Homo sapiens: one gene and its partner. The protein of the gene in region 2 purifies or fractionates together with the protein of the main gene of each other region. This does not show direct contact. Each region holds a gene or a part of one and is shown on either strand. Other genes may lie near its edges. The genes, in order: FAM98A and PINX1.

The links.
Region 1: the proteins of PINX1 (region 2) and FAM98A purify together in Homo sapiens (affinity purification with mass spectrometry; 2 studies listed by BioGRID and IntAct, with this or other methods). This does not show direct contact.

What each region holds. Positions count from the first base shown.
Region 1 is NC_000002.12:33,591,739-33,608,233, reverse strand, and holds the start of FAM98A (protein FAM98A), read left to right. Parts: upstream 1-8,934; 5' UTR 8,935-9,012; coding exon 9,013-9,065; intron 9,066-12,596; coding exon 12,597-12,745; intron 12,746-16,019; coding exon 16,020-16,154; intron 16,155-16,495. UniProt on the Homo sapiens protein: Positively stimulates PRMT1-induced protein arginine methylation. Involved in skeletal homeostasis. Positively regulates lysosome peripheral distribution and ruffled border formation in osteoclasts.
Region 2 is NC_000008.11:10,815,876-10,822,875, forward strand, and holds part of PINX1 (PIN2/TERF1-interacting telomerase inhibitor 1), read right to left. Parts: intron 4,395-7,000; coding exon 4,318-4,394; intron 1-4,317. UniProt on the Homo sapiens protein: Microtubule-binding protein essential for faithful chromosome segregation. Mediates TRF1 and TERT accumulation in nucleolus and enhances TRF1 binding to telomeres. Inhibits telomerase activity. May inhibit cell proliferation and act as tumor suppressor.

The DNA of each region.
Region 1 (16,495 bases), on a different chromosome or scaffold from region 2:
ATCTCTCATCACAATGCTGTGATTCTCATGGGGACTAGGGGGGCTGTAGAGCATGAAAAGTCTCATTGAGGATTCTAATGCACCCCCTCCCCCACATAGACACCAAAAAGAATCTCTGCACTAGGATAAAATACAAAGTTGCTAAGAACAATCTAAGTCAGCAGAGAATATATCATCCTCCCAGAATAGCCAAGTTTTAAATAGGCATTGACTGAGTTCCAGGATGATCCAAGAGCTCAGAGCATAATTCATTATTGTATACTTATTTATTCGCTGCAAAGAACCACTATTCTTTAAGAGAGCAAAATCTAGTTATGAAAAAAGGAAAATTTTCTTGTCAATCAACTAATCAATTTTTTTTATGGCTGCTGGATAGGCATCAATGTATTAGGCACTATGTAGGACATGGGTGGGTTGAAACTGCCTTTGCAAAAATTGTATCAGTGAGAAAATTATGGCAGTGGGGGAGATCTGATCTAGCCAACTCCCCTCCTGCCTTTAGCCTTCAAGCAATCGAGCTGCCTTTAATTATTACTAGACTAGCTTTGGGAGACATTTAGTTTATGGTTTAAATGATAATAGCCCTTCCCCAAAACTCAAGTGCCTTTGTAAAGCTAATGAGAGGCCACCAGGCTAGCAGGAGGGGAGGAGCCTGAATTCTGCTAAGGTGTAGACATAAATGATTGCCAGTCTTTATTCTGGAGGTAACAAGATATACAACTTCCCCAATTACTCCTGCAAATAACATATCTATTGTAGAATCTAAGAGTGGCCTTCGGAGATATCTTTTCAGGGTTTTTACATGTCTGACATCTACGCCTCTGGCTCCAACCTGGACCCGCCCACTGCTCCTGTGGCCCCACCCAGAAGGGTTTCAGCATGCAGAAGGATCATTTCCAACAACCCTATGATTGCATCCACCATCCAATCAGCAGCCACCCCCACCACTTCCCCCAGACTATCTTTGAAAAGCCCTAGTCCCTGAAATCCCAGCTCTCATGAATTCAACTCCATTGCAATGTCCCTGCCTTGATAAGTCAGCTCTATCTGGGCAGCAGGCAAGGAGAACCCATTAGGTGGTTACAGTTTTACAACCACTGGAGAGAAAAGATCACAACACATGAAATAAGCAACATAAAAATAAAACACTAATAAATGATAAATTATGAAAGACTACTTATGAAGCTATCTGAAGTGGTACTAAGAAATACAGATTCCAGCCAGGCACGGTGGCTCACGCCTGTAATCCCCAACACTTTGGGAGGCTAGGGCGGGCCGATCACTTGGGCCCAGAAGTTCAAGACCAGCCTGGACACAAGGTGAGACCCCCATCTCTACCAAAAAAAAAAAAAAATTAACTGGGCATGGTGGCGTGTACCTGTGGTCCCAGCTACTCGGGAGGCCTGAGGTGGAGGGATCACTTGAGCCTGGGAGGCAGAGGTTGCAGTGAGCTGAGATTGCCCCACTGTACTCCAGCCTGGGCAACAGAGCCAGACCCCGTCTCAGAAAAAAAAAAAAAAAAGAAAGAGAGAGAGAAAGAAAAAAAAGAAAAGAAATATAGAAACCCCACCCCATAACTGCTGTGCTATGTCAGAATGCCATAATATCAGAAATGCTGACATAGACTCATCAGAGGCAGGGCCCAGGAATCTGCATTTAAGTCTGCCAGGTTGTTATGCTACTCAATCAAGTTAAGCACCGCTACCTCAGAAATGCAGAAGAGAGGAAAATTAATTTTAACCAGTACTATCAGAGAACAACTTTTTTGTGGAGCAGTGAAGCTGAGATGGGGCCTGAGTGAAACCACCTTTGCAGAATTATAAATAATGAGCGAAATCTAACAGGGCTAACTCCATCTTGCTTCTAACCTCACAGGCTAAATTGCTTTTTTATTTATTCTAGCACAGAGGCCAAGATAACTATGAGAGGAATTTAGTTTATAGTTAAACTTGGAGGCAAGGGAAACTAACTCCCCCCTGCCTCTGCCTTATCCTACCATGCCCACACACACTATCCAGAGATTGAAGCCACATTCTTAAGACACGGGTAAAATTATGGTAGGAGCTTGAACTTTGCTAAAGAATAGGCATAGTTAGGCCGGGTGCGGTGGCTCATGCCTGTAATCCCAGCACTTCGGGAGGCCGAGGCGGGTGGATCACGAGGTCAGGAGATTGAGACCATCCTGGCTAACACAATGAAACTCCGTCTCTACTAAAAATACAAAAAATTAGCCGGGCGTGGTGGCGGGCGCCTGTAGTCCCAGCTACTCAGGAGGCTGAGGCAGGAGAATGGCGTGAACCCGGGAGGCGGAGCTTGCAGTGAGCCGAGACTGCGCCACTGCACTCCAGCCTGGGCGACAGAGCGAGACTCCATCTAAAAAAAAAAAGAAAAAAGAAAAAAGAAAAATTGGCATAAACAATTACCTGCCATTGCTTAATGTGTTTTCCTACAAGTTGCTAACTGACCCAGAGTCACGTAACTGGGGCCACAACATTTATAACTTCCTCTACTACTCCTATAACCTTACTATTATGAACCCTAAAGAACTGGGTCACTGAGATATTTTTTAGATTCAGCACTTCAGTACCACCTGGTCCTGAGAACAGACTAAGCTGCATGAAGACAGTTACAGACACTGTTGTGATTTCACCCCAGCCAGTCAATTGTTTCAGGTCCCCAGCCCCCTGTCAGTCAAAGTACCCTTTAAAATCTTAGCCTCTGAATTATCAGGGAGACAGATTTGAGAAATTTCTCCCTGTTATTGCTTGGCCAGACCTACGATTACTAAACTCTTTCTTTGCTGCAATACCGGTTCTCACTGGTTCTTTTAGGGCAGCGGGCAAGAAGAACTAGTCGGCCTGTGACATGAGGACAGGGTAAGATGTGAACTAAGTAGCTGACAGAGCAGAGGGTTTACACGTGTGCTCACCTGAAGCTGCCTGTGCCAAAATGCTAAGGAAGGCTTGGGAGGAGAGAATGAGTGCCCAAGGCAGTTAGAGAAGGCTTCTCCCAAACTGAGTCTCAAAGACTGAGCAGGAGGAATCTGCCAGGCAGACGAATGAGGGAAACAGGATTCCAGGCAAAGTCTGTACAAAAGTATAGAGGCATGAAAGGGCAAGTTATGTTAAGTGACCAGGAGGAGTTCCATGAGACTGGAATAGGCAGAGAAAGGAGGAGAGGCCCATGGGAGACAGGGTAGAAAAAGTGATAGACCTGCTTAACAAGTAAAAGACTAAACAAGGTTGGAAATCCCAAACCATAATGCAGGGCAAATAAATGCCTGGATGTTCACACATATGACATAATGTGTGACTTACAGGGTCCAGAAAACAGAGGGAACTGGTAGATCCATACCCCATGTTGAAGGGGCAACCTGCTCAACCCAAGCCAATCATTGCCTTTATGGGCAATGAGGTTCCTCCAATGCTGCCAAATCAGCAGACGTTTTCGCCCCAGAAAAGCCAGACACTCAGATTTTTAAAATAAAATCTCCAAACTTTTAAATGTAAGCTCAGTTCTTTAACTTATTAAACAGGCCAAACAAAATACAACGCTTGGTCTGGTGTGAAGGCTAGTTTATTACCTCTAGGCTACAGTCTAATAAGCTCTTACTGCATCCAAATTAGATGGGTTTCTATCTGGTTCACTGTGTGCCTGATTGCAGAACATGGCAACTAGGCTGAAGCTTTGTTGGGAGAACAACAGAAATCAAATTTGGAGCTTTTATTCTGGAAAGATCTGGATATATCTCTGTGTGTGTTTTTGTATATATATACACATTTGTGTGTGTGAATGTGTGTGTGTGAATATATATATATATATATATATACACACGTACATTCACACACATAGCACTTCCTTTGTTTAGTTTAAACACAGGCAAGATGTTGTTCTCAAACTTTGTAATATTCTCTAAAAATTGCCAGGGCTCAGAAACTATACTAACATAGCCAGAGGAATGATTTGAAAAAACAGCATTCTTTAGTAATATAAAGTATTTGAGACCATACAAGATTTAATTCTACATGCTAACTTAAAAAAAAAAAGAGTTGTGCTTTCACTGTGCAAGCTGAAAAGGACTTTATTTAGCAACATATACAAACTTGCATTTCTGAGCAACACCAGTAAATCTATGGTCTTTCTATTTTCTCCTTGCTGGAGGGTCATTCTAAAGATAAATTCACTAAAAATGGAAAATGCTGCTATTTTTCAGACAGTGTTCTTTTATTTTTGATAGAAAAGTTATTTGTTTTAGATGCCTATTTAATCACCTCTTAGAAACCAATCCATGACAAATCTTATATTTGAGCTTATACCTACCTCTTTTCCATGATAAAAAATTACTTCTATAGATGCTAGAAGTAACTTTCTTAAAGATGTCAGCTGCATAAATTTTTAATTACTATATAATTAAAAACCTTCTAATAATTTTTAAGGTTATGACTTATAAAACATGTTCCTCTGGAAACTGAAATCAGTTTTCAATTTTCCCATTTACATTTCTTTCACAAGTGAAAAAAATAATTTGTCTTTATTCTCTTCAAGAAGAGCTAGAAAAGGCTGATCTTTAAGATCATTCATTGTTTCTACTCTCCAGGAAAGGCAGTGTGGTATGGACCCCCCTCCCCCGAAAACTATCTGCATCATAATCGTTGGAACATGAGACTATGGAAAAAGGGACTTTGCAGGTGTGGTTAAATTGAAGATCTTAAGGTTGGGAGATTATTCTGGATTATCTGGCACAAGGATGGGGGTCCTTATAAGTAAAAGAGGGAGGCAGGAAGGTAAGAGGGCATGACTACCATGTAGCAGGGGTCGGAGTGGTGTTGCTGGTCTTGATGAAGGAGGGGAGTCATAAGCCAAGGAAGGTGGGTGGCCTCTAGAAACCAAAACAGGGAAGAAAACAGATTCTCTCCTAGAGATTCCAGAAGAAATGCAAACCTGCCCATTTTTGCCAGGTGAGATCCATTTCAGGTGTCTGACCTCCAGAGCTGTAAGATAATAAATCTGTCTTGTTTTAAGCCTCTAAATTTGTGGTAATCTGTAGCAGCAGCAGTTAAGAATATGGACAGTAACCAGACTCCCTCAAAGATGGGACACTAGAATAGCTTTATTTTATATTTTATTTTATCTATAGAAAACAGAAAAATGATTTATTCCAAAAGATGGCAGAAATGAGAAATTCATGCTGAAAATATACCTTGGGCCGGATGTGGTGGCTCATGACGGGGTGCAGTGGCCAAGGTGGGCGGATTGCTTGAGCCCAAGATTTTGAGACCAGCCTGGGCAACATGGCAAAACCGTCTCTACCAAAAAATAAAAAAACTTAGCCAGGCATGGTGGCCAGCGGCTGCAGTCCCAGCTACTTGGGAGGCTGAGGCAGGAGGATCACTTGAGCCCAGGAGGTTGAGGCTACGAGATCACCACTGCACTTCAGCGGGAGCGACAGAGCAAAACTCTGTTTAAAAAGGAAGAAAGAAAAAAAAAAGAACACATAATTTGGTGTAATTCTGTTGGGAGAGCTCTTTCCTCTGAACGTCCTCTCCTACTGACTGCCCCACTGGAGTCTTGTCAGGCAGTAGTACGTTCTAAATAGTTCACTGATTCCCATGTTATGAGAAGGCAGGAGCCACTACAAATCCACAAATTCCAAGGACATAATAACACATTTCTCAGAAGAAAAGCATCTTCTCTCTCAAAAGAGTGCATTATCATTTTGAGGAGTTGGCACAGTTTAGGTTAAGTAGGCACATAATTCATTAAAGCATAAAAAAGTTGAAGAAAAAAATGCTGCATTGTGTTAGACATTCAAATGTGGTGTGAATGTTTAAGGCAGCTGATGCCCAAAATAAGCAAGTCAAGAAAAGTGGTGTGGTTTGGATTTTGCATCTAGAAGGAATTCTTTTCTCATGACTGCTAAGACTGAGCACTGTAAAGCCTGTCTTCCTCAAGGCCAATGACACTTCGGATACCAGATGATTTCATGTTTCAACTGCAGTCTGAAGAGAGGGTTGAGTTGGCCAGGATTGCAATCAGCCAAAAGAGACAGCAACAAACTGAACAGGTCACCTACATGGTAATGATAACTCCCTACTTAGGACCCTTAGGGATGAACCAAGGCATGAAGAAACCAGTGAAGCCCTAAAACACGCTCATTGCAATGAGACGTATGGTGAGGCCCTGATATGCCATGCTTACCGCTGGTCTGCCAGCCCCTGCCCCTCTGCCTCACTTGGGTCCCACCTGGAAGTCATTTTTAATTAATTTTTTTTTTTTTAACAGAGACAGAGTCTTGCTATGTTGCTCAAGCTGGCCTTGAACCCCTGGCTTCAAGTAATCGTCCTGCCTCAGCCTCCCAAAGTGCTGGGATTGCAGGTCTGAACTACCGCGCCAGACCCTAGAAGGGTTTTAAGTTGGTATTTTATATTCTTTTTTGAGAAAGAATCTAGAATCAAAGTCATCAGTAAAAGGGCATGTGCTGGCACTTGTGGGTGTGCCTTCTCACAAGAGTACCCTTAAGTAATTATTCAGCCTCTAGGTGAACACCTTCTAGACAGGAAGCTCATCATCTCTCAACGATACCTAAGTCACTTTAAGACTACTCTTAGAGTGTTAGAAAAATTCTTTCTTATACTGATCTGATGCAAAAACCAGAGCTTCCTCACTTCCAAATCATTGTTCCTTTCATTCTAGTAAACTCAGTTTCAAAGAGGTCTTCAGATATCAGGTTCCATTATAAACATAAATAATTTCTAAATAAAATGCAAAAGATTCCTCGTAGATCCCATTAAAATGATGACAATTTTTTTTCTTTCTTTCTGAGCCTGCCTGGTAGGGAACACAATTTTGTTTAAGTAGTATTTAAAAGCTTTTTTTAATTGCAGAGAAAGCCATTGTAGAATTCCTTTAAACCATAATATATAAAAATTTCATATCAGCAATCCTTCATTTAAGCTAACGATGTGAATTAGAAAGAGAATACTATTCCTGCAAAAGCTGGATTTTTTTTAAAGAAAGAAAGGGAATACTAATACTTTTAGGGAAGTCATCACTCGTTCATTCACTAATATTGAACACAATATTATATTCAATATTAGTTCAATATTGAACACAGCTTACATCAAAAGTGAGTCAAGAATGAAACCCTTTTTCTTTCAAAATTGATTTTTGTATTAGGCATGACTTTTTGTTTAGCACCTTCAACAACCCTATGAGGAAAATAATTATTCAATTATTATAAGGTAATTATGTACAATATATACAAGTTTAAACAAATTCAACTAGCTAAATTTTCCTCTTTTCACATCCTGCGTATAAATCCTTATTTGACTAGTCAAAAAAGAAGGAATATGGATTTAGATATACCTCAATCTCAAAATCTAGTTTCATACTTACAGGCATTAAGATCGCTGAAGATTATTAAGCCACTCAGCCTTAGTGTCCTCATCTGTAGAATGTGACTAATATTCACACAGCCTTATGGTGACTGCATCATAATGGGCCATATCAAGTGCCCATGGTAAGTGCAGAAAACCTACCCCCACTTCAGATGATGCAAAATAAGGAAACTGAAAAAGGTACTACTGGCCGGGCGCGGTGGCTCACGCCTGTAATCCCAGCACTTTGGGAGGCCAAGGTGGGCGGACCACAAGGTCAGGAGATCGAGACCATCCTGGCTAACATGGTGAAACCCCGTCTCTACTAAAAATACAAAAAATTAGCTGGGTGTGGTGGTGAACGCCTGTGGTCCCAGCTACTTGGGAGGCTGAGGCAGAATAATGGCGTGAACCCGGGAGGCGGAGCTTGCAGTGAGCCGAGATCGCACCACTGCACTCCAGCCTGAGCGACAGAGCAAGACTCCGTCTCATAAAAAAAAAAAAAAAAAAAGAAAGAAAAGAAAAAGGTACTACTAAGGATAGGAACATCTATCCATCAGACACAAAAATGCTTGAGAACTATAGAATAAAATCAACAGGTATCAATATGAAAACTCTTTAATTAAATGCCTACACGATTTAACAGTACGCCAACTTATGGTTAAATATAGTTTTCTAAATATGCCATCACTTTGAAAACATTTCTGATTTTTCAGTAATTTCTAAACACACCCTCAGTAACTGCCAAGATATCACAACACATCCACATCGTGAACTCAATGTTTCACCCGGGCAAATAATGTCAAAAGTAATGACAGTACAGCCAAAAAGTTTATTCACTGTCTAAACTACGTGGATTTAAAAATATTCTATTCTATTTGCTATGGAGTGAAGCTCCCCTTCTCCTTAAAATAACATGCTTAGTGTCTGGGAAGGGCTTTAGACATCAGGTAGAGAATGCATGAGGGAAAACGACCCAACTTTCTGAACATCCATAGTCTGCGGAAAGTTGGCTCATCCCTAACCCTGAAATAAAGCTACTGCAGCCACGAGGAAATCAAATGGCACGCTATCTGCCGTCTGCACTTGGCCCGCACCCGCGTCCTGAAGACGGGAGCGCAAGAATTCTCCCTTTCTACATGACCTGCAAGCTAAGGCTAGCACATGCCGGCACCCTACGAAGAGCCACCCGATCTCCTGTCTGGGATGCAGAGACTCGGTTTAACAGCCGACTCCACCCGCGTCCCGAGACTCTTCCAAGCTCCTTCCCGGCCCGCCGCGCCCCCTACATTCGCACATGCGTACACCCAATAACGAGAGCCGAGAGCGCTCCCCTTCGCGTGGTCCCCACGCCCAGCTGCCACGCAGCCGGTCCTCCTACCCTTCTCTGGGCGGCTAGCTTCACGATCCAGTAACGCGCATGTGCAAAACTGCGGGCCCTGTAATTCTTTAGTGGGCAGGGGTGGGGCGGTCAGTGGGACCAAGTTTCTTGCGCACGCTCCGGACATGCGCAGTGCGGGAGCTGAGGCGCCAGCTGTGGATTTGGAAGTTCCGGGGAAGTCGCGCATGCGCGAGTGTACGCGTTGCCGGCGAAGAGGGGAGCCTGACGACTCGGAAATTTGAATACCACAGTAGCATGGAGTGTGACCTCATGGAGACTGACATCTTGGAGTCGTTGGAAGATCTAGGGTAAGATTGTCAGGGCACGGGTCTCCCAAGCCCCACGCTGCCGGCCCCCTGGGAACACCTCCTGCGCCCCAGTCTGAGACACCTGCCTCTCCACGCCGCACCCCGTGGCTCCTGGCTGTCGCTTCCCTTTGGCCCCGGCACCCCCAATGCCACGTCCACTGTCTGCACTGCTAGCTCGGGGTCCTCCAATCCCAACACCCCTAGGCCTGCCCAGTGCTCCCTGCAGGCGAGCTACCCGCAGCGTTTGTCAGTCATGCGTGTCATTGTCTGGGCTCTGATTTTCGCCACCCCCACTCCCCGAGCTTCTCTCCTCGCTTCATCCTCCTGCCCTACCCCTTAACCCCTCAACTCTAAAGGTTGCCAAAGTTGATTCTGCTTTCCTACTTGTTCTCCAAATTTCCTACTCCCATCTTGAGCCCCTCCTCCTACCCCACCCCACTTCTCTCAAAATTTCTCCTTTGCCCAGTCATCTCTGCATGCACCCAGGCTTCGCTAAGCCACTTGTATGGGCGCTGCATCTGTTCCGCTGGCCAGCTCGCTTGTGCATCTAACCTATCACCACGTCCCTGGGAACCACCAGCAGTTTGCTTTGACTCTGTGATACTCTGCCTCGTTGAGCCCCATTAGACCAGGGTCGTCTTCACCCACGAAGAACCTGCGTATTTGTTTTGCATTGTGTCTCTCCTTCTCCTGATATTTATTCAACCATAATTCATCAGTATCTAGAAGCTGGAAATAGGGTTTGTTATCTCACTGGGTCACCCAGATCAGTGTACTCTATTAAACTTGAGAACGTGGACCCTCTTGGGCTAAATGTGGTTCCAGAAACAAATTGTATGGTTAGATACTTACCTACAGGTACGGTATCAAAACAAAGTACAGATTTAGCTAGCTGTATTTCTAAGTAACAAGTTCTTTATCAAAATTTTCTCTTAGGTTTTTCCATGACAAGGAAACCTTTGAGAGAAACCTTTCTTTAGGAAAAAACACCTTGAGGATTCCCAAAGTCTGCCTATTTGAATAATTTACTACCCTAGTAGAAATTTTTAGGAACGAAGTAGTCTTGCTTATCATCTGTCTTTGTCACAGTGAAATACTATTGTTCTTTTCTTGGAAACTTGCTCTGAATTTTTATAAATATTCCAGACTTTAGGGGGCTTCTTTCTTTCATTAGGGCATATGTTAAAGTCATTCAGCAAAATAGTCTCTTTAGTTGACATCTCAGACTGAATCGCTTGTTCACACATGAAACCATTCATTCATTAGGACTTTTTTAGGAACAGTTTCTTTGTGGCAGTGTTAGGCCCTTAGAGTACAAGGTGAGGTGGAAGAGGGGTTCACAGGATACTGGGAAAATATGCTGTGAGGAGCCCTGAGGAGGGTCCCTTTACTGGGAAAGGAAATGAAATCCTAGAAGCTTCTTTCTGGAATAAATGACACTATAGTACTGTAGTGGAATGAGTGGAATGAAAGGAAGGGGGTAGACCTTATTAAATGTAGTCTTTCTGCATGGATAGTGGTCACTTAAGAATTGGCCACGGATGCTGTTTCTTCCCATTATTGTCTTTTTTTTTCCCCCTCCTTTTTTTAACTTTTTATTCTTTTGGGTACTGTACAAGTAATTGTTACTGTAGTAATTGTAATCACATAACTACTTGACATAGAGTGTAATGTAAACCATGGATTTTCTGAAAACTGTTATAAATTTTAACCTTAACTACTTAGTTTGGTGGCATTCAAATATTAAAAGTCAGCCTTAATTAACTGAAATGTACTTTTAAAGGATTAACTGAGAAATATTAGAATTAAATGACTACCTTTTCTATTTATTTATTTATTAAGAGATGAGGTCTTGCTCTGGTGACCAGGCTGGTCTCGAACTCCTAGCCTCAAGCGATCCTCCCACTTCAGGCTCCGGAGTAGCTGGGACTACAGGTGTATGCCACTGATCCTGGCAAATAGTCATCTTTTATCTCTTACCTGGCACACAGTAGGAATTCAGTAACTACTTGTTGAATAAACTAATGAAGTCTAAATGTGAAACTCAAGGAGAAACTTCTAGGCCTAGTCTTTTGATTTCAGTGTCTAATAATACATAGTTTATAAATCTAGATGCCAGACTACATGTGATCTCATTTTTTTATGTATGATTTGTTTTCATTTTGTTGCATATACTGTATAAACCTATAATCATATTTTAAAGGGTTTGAGAACTGTCATTTCTCTAACATACCTGTAGTTCTCAACATTATATTATCTTTTTTTTTTTTTTTTTTTGATACGGAGTCTTGCTCTGTCGCCCAGGCTGGAGTGCAGTAGTGCGATCTCGGCTAACTGCAAGCTCTGCCTCCTGGATTCAAGCCATTCTCCTGCCTCAGCCTCCTGAGTAGCTGAGACTACAGGCGCCCTCCACCATGCCTGGTTAATTTTTTTGTATTTTTATTAGAGATGGGGTTTCATCGTGTTAGCCAGGATCGTCTTGGTCTCCTGACCTCGTGATCCACCTGCCTCGGCCTCCCAAAGTGCTGGGATTACAGGCGTGAGCCACCACGCCTGGCCTAAACATTATATTATCTTAAGCATATTTATTGTATCATCTTAAGTAAGCATTATTATCAATATTTAAGAGAATGTAAAGCAATCTGAATAATATGTATTTAAGATTACTTGGAGTGACAGAAATCTTATATTTTAGAATATTGGTGATTGGAGTTCATTATGACTGTCATCTTTTATGAATGTTTGAACATTTTTAAATTTTTTAAAATTATATTGGAATCACTTACAAAGGATTAGGATTCAGATGCGCCAGTTCATTAACTGCCAATATTTATTAACCTAACCTGACGTTTCTTTGGTACTAGAATGTCTTACTAGTCTTAACTGGCATTAAATTTATAAAAATGATATAAATGGTTAACTGGAAAGTTTTTACTTTTAAAGGAAGTCATTAAAAACCTAACTAAGCCTGGGCAACATAGTAAGACCCCTGGCTATTTTATAAAAAATAAAAAAAAAGCCAGGTTTGGTGGCTTGTGCCTTCACTGCACTTCAGCCTATGTGACAGTGCAAGACCTCATCTCAAAATAAAAACATAATCTAGTTGTTTTCTGGAAAATTTTTAGAAAAGATAACCTAAGTTTTATTTCTGAAATAAGTTACAGTATAATTAGCTATTACTTGTTAATTTGCTTTTAATACTCAATTCAATTACAGTAAGAAAATAAATCTTTTTACAATGGAAGCTTTTAGTAAATGTACAGAAGTTGACATAATTTAGTAGTATATGCAATTCTGTTAGATATTCACCTACATTTTGAAAGGTTGAAATGCAGCTACCATTTAGCTGCTTTTTGTAATGGTTCAGTATAGTTCTAAATTATGTTTATATTTGTCCATTTAAAATAAAGATAAGTACTAACTTATCTTTATTAAATTATTGCTTATATAAATAAGACATAGATATGTTTTATCTGTAATATATTAGGTATGATTGTATTTTCTTCTGAAATGTAATTTCTTGCTCACCAGTTACAAGGGCCCATTGTTGGAAGATGGAGCGCTCTCTCAGGCAGTCTCTGCTGGAGCCAGTTCCCCCGAGTTTACCAAACTCTGTGCTTGGCTGGTGTCTGAATTAAGAGTGCTCTGTAAACTAGAGGAAAACGTGCAAGCAACTAACAGTAAGTAAACATTCACTTTTAGGTACAAAGTATAAAAATAACATTGAGGTATTGTCAACTGAACATTATCAATACTAAAGCTGAAAGTTGCAAGTTTTTGTAAATGTAAAAAATTTGTAAAGAAGCCAAGATTTTTTTTCCGTCCGTTGTTTTTAGAGGTGATTCAGAAGTTGAAATACCAGAATAAAGTCATGTAACTTAAAAATTCGTGGATGCTGAAAAGACCCTATTACTGGGATACAGAGAAATGGAGACCACAAGCATAGAATGTATGAACTTCCTATATTTTGTAAGATGTTAAATGTAAGATCCTAGATTGATGGCTAGAACTAGATACTGGGATATTTTTCTTTTAGGATTACCAGATTCTAGAAGCATCTATAGCATGTAGAGTAAATGCATTATTATTCTGTTATGCTTGGGGAGAAAGAGAACACTTTGTTAAGACATTTTGTTTATCATAAGAATGCATCGTTAGATACATCACAGTGAGATCCAGGACAATCAAATTTATGGATCTGAGAGCTGTTCTGCATTTACCAATTTTGTTTCCACTGTTGCACTAGTTTGTCGACACTGCAAAAGAGGCAAAAGCTTGGAACCTACCACTCTACCATCTGGTTCCTTCCTGCTGTAGGTAAACCTATAATAGGAGACCAAGGAAAATACTCACCTGTTAACCCACCCTTATGGAGAGCTATACATATAATTCCTTTTTTTCCACATAATCACGTTTTGAAGAGCTCACCTTCTTGCATGCTAGTGTGTGTGTGTGTGTGTGTATATATATATGTGTATATATATGTGTGTATATATATATGTGTATATATATGTGTGTATATATATATGTGTATATATATGTGTGTATATATATATGTGTGTATGTATGTGTGTGTGTGTGTGTGTGTGTGTATATATATATATATAATTTTTTTTTTTTTTTTTTTTTTTTTAACTTTATGTTCCGGGATACATGTGTAGAACATGCAGGTTTGTTACATAGGGATACGTGTGCCATGGTGGTTTGCTACACCTATTGACCTGTCCTCTGAGTTCCCTCTCCTCACCCTCTAACCCGCAACAGGCCCTGGTGTGTGTTGTTCCCCTCCCTGTGTCCATGTGTTCTCATTTTTTAACTCCCACTTAGTGGTGAGAACATGTGGTGTTTTTTTTCTGTTCCTGTGTTAGTTTGTGGAGGATGATGGCTTGCATGCTGGTATATTTAATGTGTACGTGTTAGTTGCATTCAGTTCTAATTATTAAGGAGAGTATAGTGTAACAGTAATGATAGCAACAGCTTACATTTATTGTGTACTCACTATGTTCTAAACACTTTATATGTGTTAACTCATTAAACCTCAGGGCAACCCTATGAGGCAGGTTTTATTACTGTTATACCTTTAACAAGAAAGCCCAGAGAATTTAAATACATTGCCTGAGGTCATACAACCTGTAGGGGTGAAGCCTGGTTTCAACCCCAGAACAGTAGTCAAGTTCTGAGCCAGTGTGCTTGAACACTGTGCTATACTGCCTCTTGACCAGATGTTTGAGAGACTGTAGGAACCTTTGAAAACACCAGTACTAGATGATACCTCTATTTAACCTGGAGCCCCTTTTTCTCAAATGAAACATGATACAGAAGCTAACATGTAAAACAGGTTAGAAGGTATTCTAACAAAGTAGAGACGAGGTACCTTTAGCCCAGCTCTTTCCTCCTCATCCTCCCAGCTGCCTCTAAAAGAGCTCTGTGGAACTCAAGGGCTCACAGATCACAGTTTGCAAAATATTCATAATGTAGGCTTCCTGTATTACAGATTAGAAAATGGACTCAGGTGATCAAGTGACTCTCTCAGAGTTTGTTAATTTCTTCCCCTTTGTGATAGTGAATAGAGAACAATCAAAATAATGAAGAAAGAGCTTTGTTTTTCCTTTGGTTCACCCAGTGAACTCTATACCTTTTTTTATATGCTGTGGGAATACAAGACTGTAAGTCATGTTTGCTGTCTTCAAATTTTTTCTAATTGAGAATGTTAGGCACAAATTAAACAACTGGAGATAAGTACAGTCCTTTTGTTTGTTTGTTTTTAGACAAGATCTCACTCTGTCACCCAGGCTGAAGTGCAGTGGCGCGATCTGGGCTCACTGCAACCTCTGCCTCCCAGGTTCAAGCAATTCTCCAGGTCAGCCTCCTTAGTAGCTGGGACTACAGGCATGTGCCACGACAACTGGCTGATTTTTGTTATTTTTCTTAGAGACGGGGTTTTGCCACGTTACTCAGGCTGGTCTCGAACTCCTGAACTCAAACCATCCACTCGTCTCGGCCTTCCAAAGTGCTGGAATTACAGGCATGAGCCACCGTGCCCGGCCAAGTACAGTACTTAAATGCTGAACCACTTTGTGGTTCACAGAGAGAGGAAATCAGCAAGTACGAGGGTGAAGTTTCAGCCAAGTACAAGGAAGGTTTCATCAAGGAGCAAGGCCACTGGGCTTTGATGGATGGGTGGGATTTGCTAGAGGGGAAGAGAGTAGAGGACATATCTGTCACAGGGAATAACTTAAATGAAGGCACAGAGTGGAAATAAGACTGGCTATTCATGGGACAGTGAGGAGACTGGCCTGGCACACACAGGAAATATTTGTGGAGGGAATGTAGGTGATTATAGCTGAATATGCTAGGAAGAACAAACCTAAGCAGCTATGAAGAATCTTTAAAAGCAGACAGAAAAAAATCAGATTGGATGAGGGAGAAATTAGGGAACCATTAAAGACTCCCAAATAAGAGAATGACCTAATGAACACTGAGAAAGAAAATTTTAGATTGGGAGCAGTGGCTCATGCCTGTAGTAATCCCAGCACTTGAAGACGCCAAGGTGGGAAGATAACTTGAGGCCAGGAGTTTGACACTAACCTAGACAACATACTGAGACCTAGTCTCTACAAAAGAATTTTCTAAATATTAGCCAGGCATGGTAGCATACACCTGTAGGCCCAGCTATTCCGGAGACTTAAACAGGAGGATCCTTCAAGCCCAGGGGTTTGAGGTTACAGTAAGCCCTGATCACACCACTGCACTCCAGCCTAGGCCTCAGAGACCTTATCTCAAAAAAGAAAAAAAAAGAAGAAACTTTGCAGTGGTGTAAGAAAGGATAAATTAGAAGGGGAAAAAACTCAAGTTATGAAAATCCTATTAACAATTTCAATTATATATAATAATTGTTATGCTAATGGAAAAATAATCACTATCATTAAATAAGATTATTTTAATTCTTAAAAGGTCCGAGTGAAGCTGAAGAATTCCAGCTTGAGGTGAGTGGGCTACTAGGGGAGATGAACTGCCCGTATCTTTCACTGACATCTGGGGATGTGACCAAGCGCCTTCTCATTCAGAAGAACTGCCTCCTCTTGCTCAGTAAGTTCATGGCTACTAGAATATAGCTATTACTTTCTGTTTATGTTTTCCATGACTAATAAACTGACCATGGTTTTTTGTTTGTTTATTTCATTATGAATGTAATTCAAAATTCATTTTAAAATAAAACTTTCTTAAATTTCCAATTTAGGAGCTGAGGGTAGACGTGTGCACTGGTAGCATTATTGTTTTTGTAACTGATACTCTTTCAATATTTCAGCCTCAGTGGTACTCAGGCCGTTGTGCTTCTCCTAATGTGATCACTGGTAGTTTTGGAGTGTTGCTCAAGTGTGTGATCATTAAACTTACATTTTAGACTAGAAGCACATTTTTAAGTATAT
Region 2 (7,000 bases):
CACTGAGCATGGCTAAGTGCAGGAAGTAGATCATGGAAACGACAATCGGCCTTTAGCACTGGGTAGTGACCCCTGCAGATCTGAGCAGCCTCAGCATCAAACGGAGAGACCATGTGGTCTGTACACACGATATTCCACTCCTAATCAGACGATTCTGTCGGCAGCTGTGATTGTCAGGGTCACGGGCGGTGTTGGAGGGGTATGCAACTATGATTGGGGTTAGCACAAGGGAGGCCTTGGTGGTAATGAAATAGTTCAGGATCTTCACTGAGATAATAATGGTTACACAATCCACAAATGTGATAAAGGGGCACAGAGCTGTATGAGCAGATGGTACCAATGCCAATTTCCTGGTTTCATCATGCTGTACTGTAGTTACGTAAGATGTAACCACTGGGGAAAACCAGATGAAGGGTACACAGAACCCCTTTACTATCTTTGCAACATCCTGTTCATCTATAAAAAGTTAAAGAAAAAACCCTCATGACTATTAATCAAGGGCTGCAGATGTTTCTTAGATATAAATACATTCAGATCATCCAGTTCAATAGAGAGACGAAAAAATACACAAGCAACACAACATCTATGCTCCAGATGCTCAAGCTCTTTCTTAATTCAGCCTCCAGCCAATAAGGAAGTCAAGTCGTTCTTCAGGCTGGCCTGGACACCTGGTCACATGCTTGTCAACCCCTAACAGCTCACCTCTGACTACAGGTAAGGTAAAGAAGTTTTGAAATTTAAACCATTATTTTCCACAAAATAGCAACAGCCAATCATTTTCCCACAAAGTTACGATACAGCATCAACCACTGGTGTCTCTGGTGAAGCTCAACAGAAGCTGCTAAGGCCTAACTAACCCCCTTCAATGTAGATTTTTTGTTAAATGAGAAAGAGTTCATTAACTTCGGCAGGACTGCTGTATTATCGGAGAAAGGCTGATTTTGGAATTGGACGGACACAGATTTAAAAGCCCACGTGTGCCATTTTGGAGCATTCTAACAATTCTCTCTGTGCCTCAGTTTCCTCACTGCTACAGAGGAGATACTGATATTTACATGACGGGATTGCTGTGAGGATGAAATGAGAAAAATCCAGCACAGGGTTTGGCACACAGGTGCTTAATAAAATTGGAATTCTACGATGGCAGTCAGGAGCTGTAGAAATTAAAATCAGTAGGCTTCCCTTATTGCAAGGGTGATGCTGTTACCCAAGCCAAGAACATGGTTAACGCCAACGTTCTGGAACTCTGGATGCTGAAGACAGATCAGCATCGGCACCTAACTAGAGCACCCACAGAGCTACTGCTACCTTAGTGGCCCGCACTACCACGGTTTCCAGGACTCTGGAGGGAGGTGACCTCCAGCAACACCTTGGCCTCTGCAATGCCAAATATAAATCCAGACCGACGGAGCTATGAGAGTCAAGCGAAGCAACAACATACAACATTCCCGCCAACTGAGGATGGGAGCCGAAAGAGGTTGTATTTTCAAACAAATCTGATCAAAGTCCTCCTGCCTTTGACTATAAGGGCTGTTGTAACTAACAAGGTTAAGGTTTCTTAGCAATAGTCTACTCAAGGAAGGTACCGGTATACCTCAATAAAAGCAAACTTAACATATGAACATCCACAAGGATGTCAAAGATAAATGTAGAGGTCATTTTGCTTTATAGAAAGATACTCTGTTTGTCTTAAATGTGATTACATTTAAATAGATTCTGTTTTCTGCACACATGCAGGCATGTCAAAAGGAAAATACTGCCTAGACGCGACCTCCTCAGTGTGGCACACAGGTCAGCAGCAGTATCACCTGGGGGCTCCTCGGATGGGGATGTACAGGCTCTCAGCCCCCGCCCAGGCTTCCTGAGTTGGAATCTGCAGTTTGACAGGGAAGACCTGTACACACGGCAGGACTTGAGGAGCTCTGTCCTCAGGGTTACTCACGACCCGGAAGCCAGAAGCTCTCAGTACAGCTGCATGGCAGGCTATCCCCGTGTTCTCAACCCTCGCTCCTTACTGAACGTCAGAATAACTGCTGCAACAATTGGGGAGGAATTAAAAAAAAATTTTTTTTAAATTTTTCTCCTTTTGTAATATAGATACCTGGACCCTGACCGAAGATTTAATTTAATCGGTCTTGGGCAGAACCCTGGCATTAGCATTTGTTTAAAGCTCATTAGGCAATGCCAGGACGACCTTGTTGAGAACTATGGCTACAGACGGAGAGCAGGGCCTGGTAGAAGACCACCTCACCAACAGGTAGGACCTAAATTTATCACTGGAAGAAAACACTGAACTGGAAGAGAGAGAGAGATGTGACTAATGGAAATCTCACACAAAACACGATGTTGCATCAAGGTTGATCATCTCTACACACACTGGACCAAAAGAGATTTTCCTGGGGCTAGCATTAGGGAACTGCTTTTGAAGCTCCTCAAACACAGGTGGATGTCTCACTTTAACATGACTTAGCTACCAAAGAGTCAAGTAACACCACACAGTGTTGAAAACCTCAAGGCACCCAACACCCAATAAATTCTCAAACAGAAATCTGCCAGAGGATCAGAAACCTCTGATCTCTTACAACTAAGAGCTTTCTGCACCAAACACATAAATTCTCTTAAAGTTCTACAAAAGCCCACAAGTAACATTTCCCTCCCTGATCTGTTCAACTGTACATTTTCATAGAGGGTGTCCGGGAGGGCAAAGGCTGGGGGTGGTGGGTGAGCAGCAGGCAGAAGAGAGGATCAACGTGCAGGGATGTGGAAACGCCAGTACAGAAGGCACGTGAGCCCCACGGGGCTGGGGAGATGGGGGTTATCTCAAGGTATGGGAGGGACGTGGAGTTGATACAAAGGCTCAGGGTGTGATCGTGGGGTGGGGGCAGCTGTTGGGCAGAGCAAAGGAGATGGAGTTCAAGAGGCGCGGGACTGGAATTCTAGTTCTTCCTGAGGACACGGAGACGACTGAGAGAGTCAAGGAAGAGGGGTTGGAGAGGAGGCTGGGATAAGCCAGAGGCCATGTCCTTGGTGAACAAGGAAGAGTGGCGTAGTCCAGGTCTCACGGTGAGCACTGAGGGCAGAGGTACAACCAGAAGCCAGCCTGTCTGACCATGGCTCTTTCCAGCAGCCCCTTGTGAAGGAGCAGCCGGCACGGCCGGATGTCAGAGCGGCTCCTCCCTAGTGACCACTGCCTATCCCGTGACTCAGCATAGTCCGCGCAGGCACCAAAGCCAGGTATCCTTTCCCAGCCTGCTGCTTCCATCTGCTGAGGGTGCAGGGGCAGACAGGGGCTAAAAGACCCAGGAATTCAGTCCCAATCTGCACAGGGAATCATCTAATGAGACTTCTAACCACTGGTAATTCTGGACTCCCTAAAAATTATTACTATTAAGAAACAAACCACCACCCTAGAAATAAAGATTTCTGTCAGTCTGGAAAAATGCCAGGAATCAATAAACCAAGTCTTCTTTTTTGTTCTATGGTCACCAAGGGCCCTGGCTACAAACCAATAAAAGATCATCAGTACAACATACCAGATTAGCTGAGTAACAGTGGTCACAACCATATATTCCAGATTTTCTCAGACAATGCCAGTTCTAAATACTTTTAGCCTGTTATCTTTAGAAATCCATAATCCTAATATATCTCAAACTATATCCAGGGCTGTCTCTTACACTTCAAAACAGCACAAAAAATTCTTTGCAATATTATACAGCCCAATTTAATAATTAGAATAAATTATGGAGTTCATTCCATTGAGGGTGTAGTTTAGTCACCCCATTCTTTTCTTCTAGTTGTAAGGCAAATAATATTGTATAATAGAGGAAATACCCATCAAACCCCCTTATAGATGGTGCTGATCTAGCGCTGTCTCAAATGCTGTTAGAATGGGACAGGCTGGTTCTAGAGAATGAAGGTGACATGCTTCCTCCCACCTCCATTCCAAGTGGAGTAATGCAGTTTGAGCAGAACAGACAAAATCCCTCCCCTTCTCGGCCATGGAAGAGATATTTTCCCCTCTGATTGTATCGGCAATGGGTGTTCTTCCCCAAGTTTAATCTAGTCCTCACACCAAAACAAAAAGAACAAAAGCCAAACACCAGAAAACACTTATTCTTTTTTTTAAAGATTCCTTATAAAACATTATCTACCCACTAATATTATGAAAAGGATCATATCTAGGCTGTGCATGAAGCCTCCAAAGTGTTTTGGAAAGTTTGTCAGAAAAGTACTAGTCATAGATAGAAACAGTCCTATACACAGGTGAAAATCAGACAGTATTAAAGCGGAACACGGAAACTGTACGTGGCTTTATACCTCGGGAGTCTTCTTACTCTGTCTTTTCCCAAAAATGCAGTCAAGATCTGTTTTGCTCCGAGATGACAGATCCTTCCCTAGAAAAACAATGTGATGCTTTTCAGTAAGACTGTTCTTCCTAAAAGAAAGAGCGCAGACATGAACTATGCAGCACCTCAAAGGAAAATGGCTTTTGGGAAAGAAAGAAACAATTTTGAAACTACTGACTTTCTACCCACTTTTTCATTACAACTCTTTCATTAGTAAACAAAATTAATTAAATTTTAAAACCAAGTAAATGTTTTAGAACCAGAACTCTTGACATTCTCTTAATTGTAGAAACAACCTAGAGCATACTGACTGCAAGGAAAGCTAAATTCTACAGCTCACCCTACTCCCGCTATGCCCTCAAGATGCAATTCCTGGGTCTCTGGGTTCTTCATTTAAAAATAGATCTCATTTGCTTCAGAGACATGAGCTACTTACTTAGAAGATTACGAAATACACATGAAAAAATATCACTAGATACACAGCTCCAGACCCCACATATGCACATGAATGAGAACGTATCATATTTGACACACAGGATCTTAATAATTAACTCAACAAATAAAAATTTTAAAAGAATATATGTAAATCAAAAATACTGTAAAAGGGTGACAGGGTTTCAGATTTTTCTTCTTAAAATGTTCTTTACTGCTCTAGCTATATTGTCTCTAAATAAAAAGCTACATAGGGAGAGTAGGAAATTAAATGGCTCTATGGTTCTTATTTAAAACACTAAACTCTTTAATTTCAAACCCCCAAACCAACTAATTTAAAATTCACTTCTTTGGAATTTCCACTTCTACCCAATAATCCTCTGTGAGCAGTAGGCCAAATCTAGTCCCATTTGTCAACGGCATGGTAAATGCATTTTAAAATGTAACTACTCCATGTAAAGGCTTGAGGCTCTGGGCGAGGGAGGTTCTGGGTCAGACACAGGAATGTGAGTCTCACGCTGGAAGCCGAGTTCCACCGTCACAGACTCACTTGTCTTCTTGGTTTCCTGTAGCACACTGCCTTGGCAAAGTAATGTCATGACCCAGAAGGTTCTAGTTCACTATCACTGGGGCACTTAAATATGATATTGCTCAGTGACTCCGTGAAATTAAAAAAACAAAACACTCTTCAATTTAATGCAAAACCAGGTGCCAAAACCAGTTTCCTAGGCAGCAGTACCAGATGAAGTGGCCCAGGCGGTATGACCTGTTCCTGCCAGGAGGGCAGGCTCCTCTGGGCTCTGGCTGCTGCTCTCCTTCCTACCTGAGCTTGACACTAAGCCCTCCTGCTTTTCATTTATGATTAAATAGGACCTACACAAAAAGACCCAAAAGAAAACCTACTTAAGAATAGACGATGCACACCACAGATACGGCAGAAAATGAACCGGGAAAGTGGGGAAGAAAACTGGTTGTAGCGGGAAGAGGTGGACAAACTCATCGGAGGTGTAGAGATGTCCTCACAGCTTTGCTGCCAGCACAACCCATTTTCCAATGCAAAGCACAGTTTGTACTTCAGAAAAGGCAGCTGTACTTAATTCAAAATGTGTACTGGCCATCTATCCCTAACCTATCCTCTGGAATAGAGACACTCTAGAAAATGCAAATTAAGGTCTCTTCTATAGCAATTTGACTAAAAGGAATGCTGGAGGGATTAAGGAAGAGAGGGTACATGCGAGATCACAGTTCTAAAACATGATGTCAAAATGTGAACACACAGATTCAAAACAGATCTGAAAGTCAAAGGGAAAACTGTCAAGCTGGTAGAGACAGTAAGCTATATCAATGAAGGTGCAAATGTGTCTAAAGTTTTGATGATGGATTCTTGTATCAGAAATTTTTAGCCTTTAGCAAAGTTCACTTAAGTAAATGTAGAAACCAGGATTGTTACAGGCCTTGCTCTGGATTTGATCTGGAAAACAAGAACACAGAGAAGAAAGAAGAGTCAGAGACCAGTGGAAAGGAACATAAAAGGTGGACAAAAAGGTGAAGATGGAAGTGACCTTGAGATAGTTACTAATTAATGGTCCTGATGGAAAGCTTATAAACACCAGGAAATTATGGCCGCTTTTGAATAAATACGACAAATTTAAAAAGCATTTAAAAAGCTTATTTGTTTGAGTTCTGAATTATGGTCAAATCATACAAAATACTGTTGATAAACTTAGAGAAAACGACAATGAAGAAAACTGAATAGGAAACATCTATCTGGATTTGGTTCATCTATTAGTCTTCAATGCGTAACATTTCCAGAACCAGTAAGAAAGGCCTCCAAGAGTCAAACTGAAAGTTCCTGCAAGGATGAGCAGGTACTTTCAAGGAAGAACACTCTATTTAGGTTTGCTTTAGCTGTTTGTCTAATAATCATGATTATCAGTTTCCCAGTCTATCAGAGTAGCTACTGGGAAGGGAGGAACATTACTGCTATAGTCAGACACATTTACAATACCAAGAAATACACATGGGAGGCAACTAAAACTTTCATTGACACGAGAACTTAGGAATCAAGATGATTTGGAAACAGTTTAGCAATAACCCAACAAGCTGTATTAGAACTGAGGCTCAAAAAACCAACTCTATGGAAAAGCAGAGTTGAGCTGCCGAGAGTAAAGAAGTGAAGGGCAAGGAATATGTTTGCTAAAATAAAAAAACACTTAAGGTTT